Linked DNA regions of Homo sapiens. The protein of the gene in region 1 purifies or fractionates together with the protein of each later gene. This does not show direct contact. Each region holds a gene or a part of one and is shown in the gene's direction. Other genes may lie near its edges. The genes, in order: ERLIN1, RNF139, SOAT1 and INSIG1.

Region 1 (3,034 bases):
CTGGACTTATTTTACTTGAAGCTTAGTACCTGGGTGGAATGTAAGGCTCTGGGTGATAGGAGGTGGGAGAGTGGGTGGAGGAGAGAAGGAACAACTTAGAGTAGAAAACAAGTAGGCTCAGATGAGCTGAGAGTTATTTGACAGTGAAAAGAGTATTCCTCGTAGAGAAGTTGCTGTTTGGGGACTGGGACTTGAAAACTGCTAATAGGTTTTTAAAACTTTCAATGTGAAATAAGCAGTCACAATATTAAGCAGTGGGGAAAGGGACTCTTAACTAGCTGAGGGAATGGATTGACACCTTTCCTTTGTTTATTTGCTAGATGCTGCATTCCTGGCCCGAGAGAAAGCGAAAGCAGATGCTGAATATTATGCTGCACACAAATATGCCACCTCAAACAAGGTGACTGGCTCCCTGGCCACTTTCCTAATGATGCATTTCGGGGTTTTGCTTTCTCTTTTCAGGAGCTCTGATATGATAGAAGTGATTTTATCCATTGTCAAGAAAGTGTAGTGACCAAGACATCCTCCAGAATTAGTCAGTTAGCAAGAAATATTTCACATTGATTGGGTAGGGACACAGGCCAAATGCCGTAATTCCATTCATTTGTACTGCTATATAAGGCTGAATAATTAATTAAGTTGAAGGTCTTCTGAAATAAGAGTGACAGAAGAGTAAAGTCTATTTAGAATTGCTTTCCAAATAAGGTAGTTTTTTTGGTAGATACTTAGCTTGATTAGAGCAGTATTTCTCATCAAAGGCATTCCTGGCATTTGGGGTTGAGATACTTTTTCATTGTTGAAGACCATCTCATGCATTGTAGGATATTTTGTATCCCTGGCCCTTGTCTACTGAATGTCAGTAGTGGTCACCAGTTGTTTTAACTGCCACACACACATGCATGTATTTCCATATGCCCCTTGTTGAGTACTCCTTGTTTATTGGATTTAAAAAACTATTCCAGTCATGAGGAATTTCATGTGGGATAACTTGAGAAGGCAGGTTGGGTGATATATAGGTGATAATTTGGTGTAAGGACTGGGGTAAGCTGGCTAGACGGTACAGGGCTAGTGAGCAGGGGCTATTTAAGAGGCAGCTAGAACTCCGATAGTATTCTGAGAAGGGAAGGGTATGTCCAAGATTTATAAGGTTATCGTGGAGCAGATTGGAACAGATAAAGGGTTGAGAAAGAGATTACTAAAGTGGATGATGCAGTTTGAAGGATTAGAGTCAAGTTTTAAGATATAGACAGGGCTTTTAATTTAGAAAGGAACAACATAATCCGTATTTAGAAGAAATGATAAGATGATAGAATGAGAGTTGTCAGTACTTTGAAAACCAATATAAATTTTAAAATGAACATAACATTGAAAGACACAGTTCTATAGACACAGAATGGAATTTGGCCAAAAGAAAGGCATGACAGGAAACTCCAGTTGAGGAAACTAGGAGTCCAAATCTAATGGGAGAAGCTCGTCAGGCACAAGTTTCAAGACCTTGCCATTGAGGTCTACCTTATTCAGAAAGGGGCAGTAGTTTTATGCCATTTTGAAAAATGTGACTCAGATACTAACCTATATTAAAAAGGCTTGAGGAAGAAATGTGGTTGTGCACTATGACCAGATTTGATTGGAGTGTTTCGACAGAGGATATGAATCACCTGGAGAAGATAGAGATCCAAAGAGTGAAAGATGTCAAAGTGTAGAAAATAAATGCTGTAGGACTGTGAAGGACAAGATGGACTTTTGCCTGGGGGACAGGCCAGGACTCAAGATAAGGAGAGGATCACAGAGCAGGGTCTGAGGGGCTTTGAAAGGCATATGTTACAGGGAACAGTGGAAATGGGTTTTAATCAAATCCAGATAGATTCTGGTTAGATACATCTTGGCATCCTGATTTAGACAAAACAAAACAGTGTGACAGAGGGAGATCTGGTGGTCGACGAGTTTTAATCAAACCCAGATAGGTTCTGGTTAGATACATCTTGGCATCCTGATTTAAACAAAACACTGTCACATAGATCTGGTGGTCGACAAACATCTGTCTGTCACAAGCAGCTTAAACATCCAGCTTCTGGGGAAAGGCAGAAGGCCAGATCAGGTGACAACTTGAGATTTTATTCTAGTTCTAGAATTTGTTCAAGAAAAGCAGAATCACAGCTAATGATAAGATAATGAGCACCAGCCCTTCCTTTGAAGTTCTGCTCTCATCCACTGACCTGTGTATCTCTCTCAAGAGAATCAACAGAGAACCAGGCATGATGGCTCATTCCTGTAGCCTCCCTGGAGGCTAAGATGAGAGTATCTCTTGAGCCCAGAAGTTTGAGGCTGCAGCAGCGAGCTATAATTGAACCACTGTATTCCAGCCTGGGCAACAGAGTGAGATCTCATCTCCAGAAAAAAAAAAGGCTGGGTGCAGTGGCTCACATCTTTGATTCCGACACTTTGGGAGGCCAAGGTAGGAGGATTGCTTGAGGCCAGGAGTTTGAGACCAGCCTGGCAACATAGACCCCATCTCTACAAAAATAAAAATAATTTTTTTAGAAAAGAGAATCAACAGAAACTCCAGACCAATTCCAGGTTGAATTCAACTAGATGAAATGAAAGTCACTTTAGAAATATTAGTTATTATCATTAGTTATCACAAATTGTTTTCCAACTCCCCCATCCTTTTATTAAAAAGTGAACAGCTTCTCTTGCATTAAGTCAGGAGCTTAATGAAGGAATTTTAAGTCAGGAACGCAGCTGTTAATGTGATAGCCACTCTCCAAAGTGAGAGAGGGTCATTGGCAGTTATTCAGACTTGACTCATGATACTCAGGAGAGCAATAGGTGAAATGTATATAGGGAGAGAGAAGACTGTTGCACCAGAGTATTCTGATGCCTTTGCTCTTGTTTGCTCCCACACAGCACAAGTTGACCCCGGAATATCTGGAGCTCAAAAAGTACCAGGCCATTGCTTCTAACAGTAAGATCTATTTTGGCAGCAACATCCCTAACATGTTCGTGGACTCCTCATGTGCTTTGAAATATTCAG
Region 2 (4,555 bases), on another chromosome or scaffold:
AGCTGATTCTAGTTTAAGGCAAGTCGAGTTTCAGAACTTTGGAGATTTGCAGTTGTAGGAGTGAAAGTAGGTGAGTATTCAGATGTCATTCCCATTGTTGAAACCTTGGATAATAATGTGTTTATTGTAATCCTACTTAAAATATGCATTTCTGTCAGAGTACAAAGAAAGATGGTGTCTATGGAGTGGGGGAAGGAGAATTACCATTTTCTAAAAACATGTCTTGGTTTTCTGAGTGTTACTTTTGTAATGTGAAGAACAATAAAAAGAGTTGACTATTTTAAGAAACAGATTCAGCATTATACAGGAAAAAGGGAACTTGGAAGATGTTTCTAAGTCCGAAGGAAACTAGGAGGAAAAAAAATGGAATTTTGGACCCTTTGGAGAATGCTCAGAGTTAAGGAGTAGGAAATAAGAGCTGGCATGAGTTCACAGTTTGAAGAAAAGGAGGAATTAAGTGGAAGTATAAAACTTGAACTTGATTTCCTAAAGAATCCTTTAAAAAAAAATCTAAAACTTGGCTGGGTGCGGTGGCTCACGCCTGTAATCCCAGCACTTTGGGAGGCAAGGCGGGCGGATCACTTGACGTCAGGAGTTAGAGACCAGTCTGGCCAACATGGTGAAACCCCGTCTCTACTAAAAATACAAAAATTAGCTGGGCATGGTGGCAGGTGCCTGTAATCCCAGTTACTTGGGAGGCTGGGGCAGGAGAATTGCTTGAGCCTGGGAGGCAGAATTTGCAGTGAGCTGAGATTGCACCAGTGCACTCCATCCTGGGCAACAGAGTGAGACTCTTGTCTCAGTCAGTCAATAATAAATGAATCTAAAACTTAATAGGAATAAATGTTTTCCATTTGGGTTATTTTTAACCCAATTTTTAAAATTAATTTTAATGATTATGAAATGATAAAAGACATATTCTTTTGAGTTTTAAAACTTGTTAAAATGTATGTACCACTACAAATTCATCTTGAAAATAATTTAGTAATTTGGTGCCTTGGACAGCTACAGTGTTACTTGAAATACTTTGGAAATTAGAAAGTAAGGAATGAAATTTTAAAGAATAATTTAGTATGTTTGGTCTGTTCTCCTGAACTCTGACTTTACAAAACCTTTATTACCCTTTAAGCCTTAGTTGTCTTGAGGCTTAATGTTCATAACTGAAAATATTCATATTTCCTAATTAAAGGAAGAATATCATAACTCTTAGTGGGGAAACATTCTTACAAATACTTCATTCAAATGACTTTTTCTTTCTTTCTTTTAGGTGTATTTGCATCCAGTATTGTTCTGATCTTGTCACAACGATCACTTTTCAAGTTTTACACGTACAGCTCAGCCTTTCTGTTAGCTGCAACTTCAGTGTTGGTGAATTATTATGCTTCTTTGCACATTGACTTCTATGGTGCCTACAACACGTCAGCTTTTGGAATTGAGCTGCTTCCTCGAAAAGGTCCCTCGCTGTGGATGGCACTTATCGTTCTACAGCTAACATTTGGAATTGGATACGTTACACTACTCCAGATTCATTCCATCTATTCACAATTAATTATTTTGGATCTCTTGGTTCCTGTAATAGGCTTAATCACAGAGCTACCATTACACATCAGAGAGACTTTACTGTTTACTTCTTCCTTGATTCTCACATTAAATACAGTGTTTGTCCTGGCAGTGAAACTGAAGTGGTTTTATTATTCCACACGATATGTTTATCTTTTGGTGAGGCACATGTATCGAATTTACGGATTACAGTTATTGATGGAGGACACATGGAAGAGGATTCGTTTCCCAGACATACTACGAGTCTTTTGGCTAACAAGAGTTACAGCTCAGGCTACAGTGTTAATGTACATCTTAAGGATGGCAAATGAAACTGATTCCTTCTTTATTTCTTGGGATGATTTTTGGGACCTCATTTGCAATCTTATAATTAGTGGGTGCGATTCTACACTAACTGTACTGGGCATGAGTGCTGTAATTTCCTCAGTAGCCCATTATTTGGGGCTTGGAATATTGGCCTTTATTGGATCAACTGAGGAAGATGACAGGCGTCTTGGCTTTGTTGCACCTGTTTTATTTTTTATTTTGGCTCTTCAGACTGGGTTAAGTGGGCTAAGACCAGAAGAGAGACTTATTCGCTTAAGTAGAAACATGTGCCTTTTATTAACTGCAGTCCTGCATTTTATCCATGGAATGACAGACCCTGTATTAATGTCTCTCAGTGCCTCTCATGTGTCATCTTTTCGTAGACATTTTCCTGTGCTGTTTGTCTCTGCTTGCCTGTTTATTCTTCCTGTCTTACTCAGTTATGTTCTTTGGCATCACTATGCACTAAATACATGGTTGTTTGCAGTTACAGCATTTTGTGTGGAACTGTGCTTAAAAGTAATTGTTTCTCTCACTGTTTATACGTTATTCATGATTGATGGCTACTATAATGTCCTCTGGGAAAAGCTTGACGATTATGTCTACTACGTTCGTTCAACAGGCAGTATTATTGAATTTATATTTGGAGTTGTAATGTTTGGAAATGGGGCTTACACTATGATGTTTGAGTCGGGAAGTAAAATTCGGGCTTTTATGATGTGCCTACATGCATATTTTAACATCTACTTACAAGCCAAAAATGGCTGGAAGACATTTATGAATCGTAGGACTGCTGTGAAGAAAATTAATTCACTTCCTGAAATAAAAGGGAGCCGCTTACAAGAAATAAATGATGTATGTGCAATCTGCTATCATGAGTTTACAACATCTGCTCGTATTACACCGTGTAATCATTATTTCCATGCACTTTGCCTTCGGAAATGGCTGTACATTCAAGATACTTGTCCAATGTGCCATCAGAAAGTATACATCGAAGATGATATCAAGGATAATTCAAATGTATCTAACAACAATGGATTTATTCCACCCAATGAAACTCCAGAGGAAGCTGTAAGAGAAGCTGCTGCTGAATCTGACAGGGAATTGAACGAAGATGACAGTACAGATTGTGATGATGATGTTCAAAGAGAAAGAAATGGAGTGATTCAGCACACAGGCGCAGCAGCTGAAGAATTTAATGATGATACTGACTGATGAAAATAGCATTTATTAATGATTGAGGTATTTGTTTAAAATTCAGTTCATCCAAAATGGAGTAATATCCTTCACCTTCAGTGTGTAACCAAGCACAAAAACAGTATCAATGTTGAATCTGTGAATGGTTTTCCGTTTACTGTGATGTGCTACTGTAAATATACCTCTTTAATTACTTCTGGTCTCTTTGGTGACCTGTTTAAATTTGTGTACATTATTGTACATAGAATAAAATGTTTTCACATTTTTATGACAAAATTTGAACAAATAGCTTTTTAATAGATGTAATGATCATATGGTGCGTCACCTGTGCCAAATATTCTTCAATGAAATTATATAATGTAACTTTGGACCTCAGTTTTTCTTTAGAAATGGGTGGGAGAATGAAAATGCAAATCAGGAAACCACATTAAAGTCAAGGAAATAAAATAATTTGACCAGAGGATAAAGGACATGAGAGAGTATTTTAAAACTAAAGAAAAAATTAGCTGCCAGAAGCAACTGAGGACCTTTTTTGAAACTTGAGTAGCAGTGTAATTGAGCTGAGTTTGAAAGTCCTGATTCAGAGAGAGACTGAGGGTTGACAAATAAACTGTATCAACTAAACTTTGATATAAACCAGAATGTGCTAAATGTTTTTTATGTAAAATTGTATATTTGTTAGCCATTCTGTGTCTGCAGTATTGTCATAAAATTGTCCTTTCATTCTTTTGAAGATATTACAAAACAAAAATAGTTTTTTTTAAATTGTTTTAAACTAAGATACTCAATGATATAAAAACATCCTGATCTGATTTTACGAGAAAAAGAAGGGGAATGGTGGGGAATGGTGTGTACCGATATATAGTATTTCTTTAGACAACTTGCAGATAATTTCTTTATTGAAACTATCAGGAAGTTTTACTATGAAATTTTACATACATGATGGAAAGTGGAAGACATATACCAATTATATTCCAGGAAAAAATACTTTAATAGTATTGTTATATAGTGTATTGGCTAATTCCAGTGGATCCTCATCTCTCACTGCTGACATTATCTCCAATATTTGACTAAAACAAAACAAAAACAAAAATGGTTAAATCTCCAAGTATACATTTAGTTCTAAAGCTATATAATATTTTTCCACACAAAGGAAAATATTGGCACACCTTTAATATAATAAAGCTTAACAGTTATTAAGTTTTTCAGCAATATCAATAGAAAAACTTACTGCCAGTAACTGGAAACAGATTTATGGACTGTCTTGCATATAACTAGAGCTAAGAACCAGGTTCAAGTAAATTATTAAAGCAGCCATCTGTATTATGTTCACCAATTATAGCATTAACTGAGTGGAAATGAAGAGTCCTTTTCAATTGTGAGTCATAGCATGTTCATTAGTGGGTCATGATGAGCATTTTAAACATTGACAAGTACATTGTACTCAATAAGGGTAAGTACTGTTCCATTTTTTGTTAGGTTTTATTATGTA
Region 3 (3,816 bases), on another chromosome or scaffold:
CCTCAGCCTCCCAAAGTGCTGGGATTACAGGCATGAGCCACCGCACCCGGCTTCATTTTGCTGTCTTTTATGCTTTAAACTTTTGCTATATGCTCTTTAAAAGAGTATCTACTTTAAATTCCCCATCATCTGGCCAGAAAAAAAAAGTCTCTGTTCATCTGGCCAGAAAAAAAAAAATTCCCATTATTCCTTGTAAAATTCCTCTCTTACTGAAACATCTTGGTTCCTTTTGTGTCTTTCTTTTTCTTCCCTGATTTCCTCTACTTTGAGGCTGTCCCTCAAAGTTTAGTTTTCAGTTCTTACTTCTCTCATCATTTCTGATGAAGAGATAGATGCTCTTGTGGCTTCCTCTGTCACTTTTACACAGAATTGGACCATTGTAAGTTGGGCATCGTCTTGTGATTTATTAGCCCTGACTTTTCCCTTAAGTTCCTCTTAATTAGATCTTATGATATCATAACATTTCTACTTGATATATTCATCTGCTGTTCCACAATTGTTTCATTTGTTTGATTTCAGAAATAATTAGAAGAAAGCCGATCTAGATTTGTCAGATTTTTACTTTGCCAAGCTGTGATAGTTGAAAAACAACCAAACCCACCATGTACTATATTTCATCCTTTTATACAGAAAAGGATATTTTAGTACAAAAATTAAGAAAAACTGTAGTCTCAGAATTTAAATATATATAGCTTTAAAATAATGTAATGAGTATTTCACAGTTGTTTTCTTCTTGCTTTAGACTCTTGAAAACTTTATCACATAGTGAAACACTGCTTTACTTTTTATTTAAAATTGTTTTTTTGGCCGGGTGCGGTGGCTCATGCCTGTAATCCCAGCACTTTGGGAGGCTGAGGCGGGCGGATAACTTGAGGTCAGAAGTTCGAGACCAGCGTGACCAACATGGTGAAACCCTGTCTCTACTAAAATACAAAAATTAGCCACGTGTGGTGGCAGTCACCTGTAATCTCAGCCACTCGGGAGGCTGAGGCAGGAGAATTGCCTGAACCCAGGAGGCGGAGGTTGCAGTGAGCCGAGATTGCACCATTGCACTCCCACCTGGGCAAAGCGATACTCCTTCTCAATAAATAAATAAATAAATAATTTTGAGATGTGGTCTTGCTATGTTTCCCATGCCAGACTCAAACTCCTGGGTTCAAGTCATCCTCCCGCCTGAGCCTCCCAAGTAGCTGGGACTACAGCTGTGTGCCACCATGCCCAACTAGGGAAACACATGGCTTTAGAGTAAACCTTGTACTATCTTGATATTGATCTTTGATCATGTTTTTTAGTGCTTAAAGTGTCTCACCACTGCCTTCCTGAAAAACTTCTAATTTCTTAGGCCTTTATAGTTTGACTCCTGTCCTCCTTTCTAGTCTTTTCCCTCATCACATTTCTCCATTACCAACTATTTTCCCCCAGTAGTTAGTGGTCTTTGTAGTTTGGATCCAACTAATGCCAGTTCCAATCGGGCTCTGTCGTTAGCTGTGTGGTCTTGGGCAAGTTACTGTAATGAGAAGAAAAGCAGACTCTAGTACCTGGGGCTGTGGTGTGCATTCCTATAAATTCAGCTTGTTCAACTGCAGGTGTATTCCTGGTACATGGGTGGAGGACACTGATAGTAACTACTTTAAATCATTGTTTTCTCATGTGAAAACTGAGGGTAATTTTTTTCAGAATTGTTATGAAGATTAAATGAGAAAACTTAAAGCATCTGGCAGGGTCCTTGCACTTAGTAGATACTTAACAAAAACTTGTTTTTGTCGTAGTTCAATTCCTTCATGGTTCCCTGAACGGGGCTTATAAGGTCCTTGTTTTAATCCTTTCTTGCACATGGAATGCACAGTTCTCATCCTTCAAGACTGTGTCTAAAATACCTTCTTTTCTGTGAAACCTTTACATCTTCTGCTAATCTCTGCTGTCTCTGAACTTAAGGTATTGTTTTTACCATTGACTTTGTTATTAAATCATACTCCACCCTGTGGCATCTTTGTAGTTACCTGTTACTATTTAATCCTTTTTTTTTTTTTTTTACATACTTAATGCTTTGTTCAACTAAATTGTTCTTTAAGAGTGGGGTCTATGTTTAAAAAGGGGCTTCAAAACCATTCCAATTATTTTATAGGACCTGATTTCTTCAGATTTGTTATCTTGAGTATCTTGTACCCAGAAAATGCTTTGAAATGATTAATGCAAAAGGAAGAGAATGTATCATCACATTTCACCTCTCCTAAATATAGTGGTATTGTGAAATTCACGTAAGCCAGATGCTTAGTTCAAAGCTGATATATTGGTTTGCTTCTGTGTCCCCACACAAATCTCATCTCTAACTGTAATCACCACGTGTCTAGGGAGGGAACTGGTGGGAGGTGATTGGATCATGGGGGCAGTTTCCCCCATGCTGTTCTCGTGATAGTGAGGGAGTTCTCATGAGAGCTGATGGTTTTAAATGTGGCACTTCCTTGCTCTGTCTCTCCTGCCGCCACGTAAGACATGCCTTGCCTCCCCTTGGTCTTCTGCCATGATTGTAAGTTTCCTGAGGCCTTTCCAGCCATGCGGAACTGTGAGACAGTTAAACCTCTTTCCTTTATAAATTACCCAGTCTCAGGTAGTGTATAGCAGTGTGAAAACGGACTAATACGAAAGCTTTTTACACCTTCTTTCCTAGACAATACAATGGTGGGTGAAGAGAAGATGTCTCTAAGAAACCGGCTGTCAAAGTCCAGGGAAAATCCTGAGGAAGATGAAGACCAGAGAAACCCTGCAAAGGAGTCCCTAGAGACACCTAGTAATGGTGAGGCTTAATTTTTTTTTTTTAGGTGAATTAGTGAAATAGAGAACAAATACAGTGTTATAGAATAAGTATTGCCATCTCTTTAATTCTTTATTGTAAATGGGTATTGATAGAGTTTTATATGTCTAGTAACAAAGCAATTAGACAATAAGTCCTTTCTCGTTAATTAATTTGGTGGTCATCTATTGGTATCTGCTGTGTTTTAGAGACCATTCATTCAGTCACGTAACCTACCAATAATTGCTGAGGTCCCCCGCTGGATGCTGGGGCTATAGCAGTGATCAGTACGGATTTGTTTGCCATTATGGAGCTCCAAGTTAAGTGAATGACAAAACCTCCAAAATCATACACATAACTAGATTTATCACAGTGTAATATTCTTGTAATTAACTACTTTCATAATAGATGTAATGAGTAAAATGTGAGTAATTAGCAGGGTGCCTAACCCAGTTCAATACTGAGCTATAAATCTTGGGAGAGGAGTAGTTAGGGAGTTTTATTAGTTCTTGTATCCACGTTTGCTTAATGCCTGACTACAAAGAGGAATACGATAGTCCTTTGTTGTTAAGGTCAAGGTTTATGATTATGAATGATAGACTTGTAAACACAACTCTAATTGATGTCATCTATTGCATCAGGGTATTAATTTTTGCAGTGACATTTGTAAAGGTTTGATTTCAACAAGGATTTGAAAATTGAGGATTGTTTAGTTAACAAATAGGTGCGGAACCTTCTGAGACAGGTTGTCTTTGGCATTTCATCTCTTTTCATAAAGAAACAGTTTTGTTTTTCCTACCTAAATTTAATTAAACTTAAATATCAACAGCTGGATCCCACCAGGAATGTAAACATTGCTGCTTGAGTTGGCATAATGAGGTTTATTGATAGGCTCTTAGTTAGCTATATATGACATATTTATATGGCATATGGGCTAGTTTTAGTGTGATATAAAATGTGAAATTTATGCAAAGGAGGATGAGCCAATACTGGGGAGAATTCTCCTTCCGTGATTTAGGGACTTA
Region 4 (3,816 bases), on another chromosome or scaffold:
TTTTACTTCTCTTTTGGAATGCCATTCCTTCCCACCTGTCCAAATTCCAAGTTCGTGTCTATAAAGAATAACTATTCCAGACCACAGTGATCTCTTTCTCTGTGTCCCAGTTACATAATCCTTATAATTTTACACATGAGAAAACAAACATGCAGAGCCACGTCCCATCAGAGGGCAAGCTGGGATTTGAGGCTGAGTTTTCTCTTCTTGGTCTGGTGTTCTTTCCGCAGCTTGAGGCTTGACCATGCGGGAACCAGATGGAGAATAAGCGAAGCCTGTGTGGGGCTGTCTCGCCCCGTACTTGCCCATGTGCATGTGTGCACAGTAGGTGCTCAGTGCCTCGTACAGAACATGCTAGAACCCCCGAAAATCAACTCCAGGGCCACTCTAGGAGCATGTGACCCAGACTGTCAAAGTCACATCAGCAAATATGTATCTCATCACGTGCCCAGCCCCAGTACTGGGTGGTGGCAGGAGTGTCAGAGCTGTGATGTGACAGGGTGTGGACAGATGCTAACCTTTTTATTGTAAGATAGAAATCACACCGGATGAAAAGACAAGGTGAACTACATAGTCATTTAAGTTCTGTGTGCTTTAGGCAAATGTGGATATTAAATATAAGGTTACATATTGCTCATATTAATATGAATAATCCCTGCTTGATTCCTTCCTGTGTTTACTGAGACATGTTCAACTACACTAAATAATAGTGATTTTTAAAAAACTTTTCCAAACAGTACAATTTTGTGGGAGTGGTACTCAAAGAGAACAAGAATATAAAATCACTCTGAAGTTATAGCTGATAATTTTTTCTAGGAAAAGGACTGGTTTGAGTAATGTACTGTGTTACTAATGACCACGTTGAAATTCTGGAACTTGAATCTGCTGTATTCTAACATTGTCAACTTTTTTAAAACAGCTGTTGTTGGCCTACTGTACCCCTGTATCGACAGTCACCTCGGAGAACCCCACAAATTTAAGAGAGAATGGGCCAGTGTCATGCGCTGCATAGCAGTTTTTGTTGGCATTAACCACGCCAGTGCTGTATCCTTAATTTTCTGTGCTACGTCCAGAGTATCTTCTTAGGTTATATATTGAAGCGTTTTGTTTTGTTATATACTCAAATGACTCCATGTCATAATACAGACATGATGGTGGTACCTACCCATTTCAGATTACTAAAAAGAGAAAGAAGAATGGGGCTATCGATGACTTCATAGTAAAATATATTGTTTTATGGTCAAAATAAATATATATTTATTTATATTTTTATATATATTATATATATTTTTAAATATATATAATATATATAATAAATATATATTTATATAAATATATATAAGCACTTTATATATAGCTTTCAGCAAGTTTATTCTTATGGTTAAGTTTTTGACTCAGTGATGGCAGGGAGATTTCAGGTGATCTTAATGATTACTGTAACCTGTATCCAACAAATCCTTTCTTTAGCTTATTACACAGTTTTTATGGACAGTGAATTATCTGTGGTACAATAATAAAATACCCATGTTTTTAACCCTTGTGGTTTTACGTTTTTTTATCTTAATAAGAGTCAGCAAACTTTTCCTTAACTTTTATATCACCAGAAATTGGATTTTGCCAATAATGTCCAGCTGTCCTTGACTTTAGCAGCCCTATCTTTGGGCCTTTGGTGGACATTTGATCGTTCCAGAAGTGGCCTTGGGCTGGGGATCACCATAGCTTTTCTAGCTACGCTGATCACGCAGTTTCTCGTGTATAATGGTGTCTATCAGTAAGTGTGTGTTTTCAAATATTGGCTTTGGAAAGCTTACTTAACTTTCATTAAAACATCCACTAAGCTTAGATATTTTCATATTTTATTTGTTTTTTATATAGAATGATACAGATTTAGGCATGAAATTCTCAAAAATGCTGCTATCCATAACTTAATGTAACGCAAAGGAAAACCAAGTAGTAGCAGTTACAACCAAACAAATATGAACATTCGTAACATTGGATGGTTGATATGCGTTCTGCATATCCCCACTACAGAGAATCTGTGATGTAGAATTGAGCCAGGTGAAATTGACTGCTAAGGTACAGTTTCTTTTCTCGCTCCAGGTATACATCCCCAGATTTCCTCTATATTCGTTCTTGGCTCCCTTGTATATTTTTCTCAGGAGGCGTCACGGTGGGGAACATAGGACGACAGTTAGCTATGGTAAGTGAAATGATCATATTATCTTCTAAAACTTGCGTCTCTTTACCTTGATAGAATGACTTTACATGATACATTCAAATTTGCGTTCATATATTCTGGTTCAGACTTGAGTGACAACTACTGAGAAAAGCTTATATTTAAAAAAATAGGTAATGATACCCAGGTAATTCTTTGCTAAATTATAAAAATTCATAATATTTGATCTAGAAAAGGAACTAGAGCCCTCGCACTGCCCCTTTGAATTGCAGATGTGGTCAGTGTTCTGAATTCTTGAAATTTCTGTAGTAAGCAGTAGAGAAAGTGACTGGTGTGTGAGTGTCCCCTCCTCCTTCACCATCGGAAGCAGATCTGGATGACCTCATGCAGTGATACTTTGCTCCCTGAGCATCAGTCCACCAGTGTTTCTTTTCACAAAATCAGAGTGGATGCAGATGATGCTGGCCTCTTAGTCCACAGTCAAGCAAATCGAGCCTGAGGCTGCAGAGTCTGTCTCGGGCCAGGGCAGGGACTAATGTGGGTGGGCAAGGGGACAGCCTGGTTCAGGCAGGCAGCACCTTTCTGTGGGGCAGGTGGCCCTGGGCATGGAGAAGTGGTGATGAGAGCACCGCTGCACGTGGCCGGGTCACCATGTAGACGGACTGTCCTGCCTGAACATTGCATCTGTTCTCAGCTGCAGGAGAAAGCAGTGCTACCCCGCAGAGCTTCTCTCACAGCCCCCCTGAGGGAGACGGAAAGGTAGTGAACTCCAGGATGGCTTTAGCAGTTCTCATTAGTTAAAAATTGACATCTTAGCACTTCAATTTAAAAACATAGAGGTGGACTTTTAAATGTTATTTTGAGTTGACTTTGGCAGGCTGAAAGAAAGTAAATTAAAAAAAACAACAAAAACCTAGAGCTGTTGCTCTCGGAGATAAGCTCTGGGAAAACTTATCTTAGTACCTCATGCTATTTTTAAAACAGTACATTTATTTTTGCCAGCTGATACCCTTCTGTGAGGAGTTGAATTTGAAGACCACTTGGCTGTTTCACAAAACCAGAAGTAATTACAGGTAGAATTTGCAGTCTTCCACTGGTTACTGACTCTCTGCTGCCAAATTTCTCATGATGGAGAAGAAAGGACTTTGCTTGCCTTTTTTTTTTTTTTTTTTTTTTGAGACAGAGCTCTGGAGTGCAGTGGTGCCATCATAGCTCACTGTAACCTTGAGCTCCCGGACTCAAGCAATCCTCCCGCTTCAGCGTCCCGAGTAGCTGGGATTACAGGCACATGCCACCATACCCGGCTAACTTTTTTGCTTTTTGTGGAGATGTTATCTCCCTGCCTTGTCCAGGCCGGGCTCGAACTCGTGGGCTCAAGCCATCCTCCCACCTTGGCCTCCCAAAGCACTGGGATTATAGGCGTGAGCCTGGCCTTGCTTTTTTTAATATTAAAAATCTGGTCGGATGGTCCCACATGGAAATAGTATGTTGTTTTCATGCATTCGCCATCATCCCCGTTAATAGTCTTCAAAGGAGAGCTGGCAACTCCATCATTGCTTTCTTGCTTTGAGATTTTTGTTTCGGTACTCTTTGGGAGAGAATTCCTAAGAAGGTTTTTAGAATAAAATTGTCCTCAACCA

The links.
Region 2: the proteins of ERLIN1 (region 1) and RNF139 purify together in Homo sapiens (affinity purification with western blotting, with the first as the bait; one study listed by BioGRID). This does not show direct contact.
Region 3: the proteins of ERLIN1 (region 1) and SOAT1 purify together in Homo sapiens (affinity purification with mass spectrometry; one large-scale study listed by BioGRID and IntAct). This does not show direct contact.
Region 4: the proteins of ERLIN1 (region 1) and INSIG1 purify together in Homo sapiens (affinity purification with western blotting, with the first as the bait; one study listed by BioGRID). This does not show direct contact.

Annotation. Positions count from the first base shown.
Region 1 is NC_000010.11:100,152,226-100,155,259, reverse strand, and holds part of ERLIN1 (erlin-1), read left to right. Parts: intron 1-320; coding exon 321-400; intron 401-2,907; coding exon 2,908-3,034. UniProt on the Homo sapiens protein: Component of the ERLIN1/ERLIN2 complex which mediates the endoplasmic reticulum-associated degradation (ERAD) of inositol 1,4,5-trisphosphate receptors (IP3Rs).
Region 2 is NC_000008.11:124,484,564-124,489,118, forward strand, and holds the end of RNF139 (E3 ubiquitin-protein ligase RNF139), read left to right. Parts: intron 1-1,267; coding exon 1,268-3,081; 3' UTR 3,082-4,030; downstream 4,031-4,555. Other genes in the region: deoxyribonuclease TATDN1, read right to left, coding at 4,031-4,133. UniProt on the Homo sapiens protein: E3-ubiquitin ligase; acts as a negative regulator of cell proliferation through mechanisms involving G2/M arrest and cell death.
Region 3 is NC_000001.11:179,300,009-179,303,824, forward strand, and holds part of SOAT1 (sterol O-acyltransferase 1), read left to right. Parts: intron 1-2,668; 5' UTR 2,669-2,676; coding exon 2,677-2,794; intron 2,795-3,816.
Region 4 is NC_000007.14:155,300,647-155,304,462, forward strand, and holds part of INSIG1 (insulin-induced gene 1 protein), read left to right. Parts: intron 1-919; coding exon 920-1,044; coding exon of another isoform or gene 1,045-1,074; intron 1,075-1,604; coding exon 1,605-1,771; intron 1,772-2,100; coding exon 2,101-2,200; intron 2,201-3,178; coding exon of another isoform or gene 3,179-3,249; intron 3,250-3,816. UniProt on the Homo sapiens protein: Oxysterol-binding protein that mediates feedback control of cholesterol synthesis by controlling both endoplasmic reticulum to Golgi transport of SCAP and degradation of HMGCR.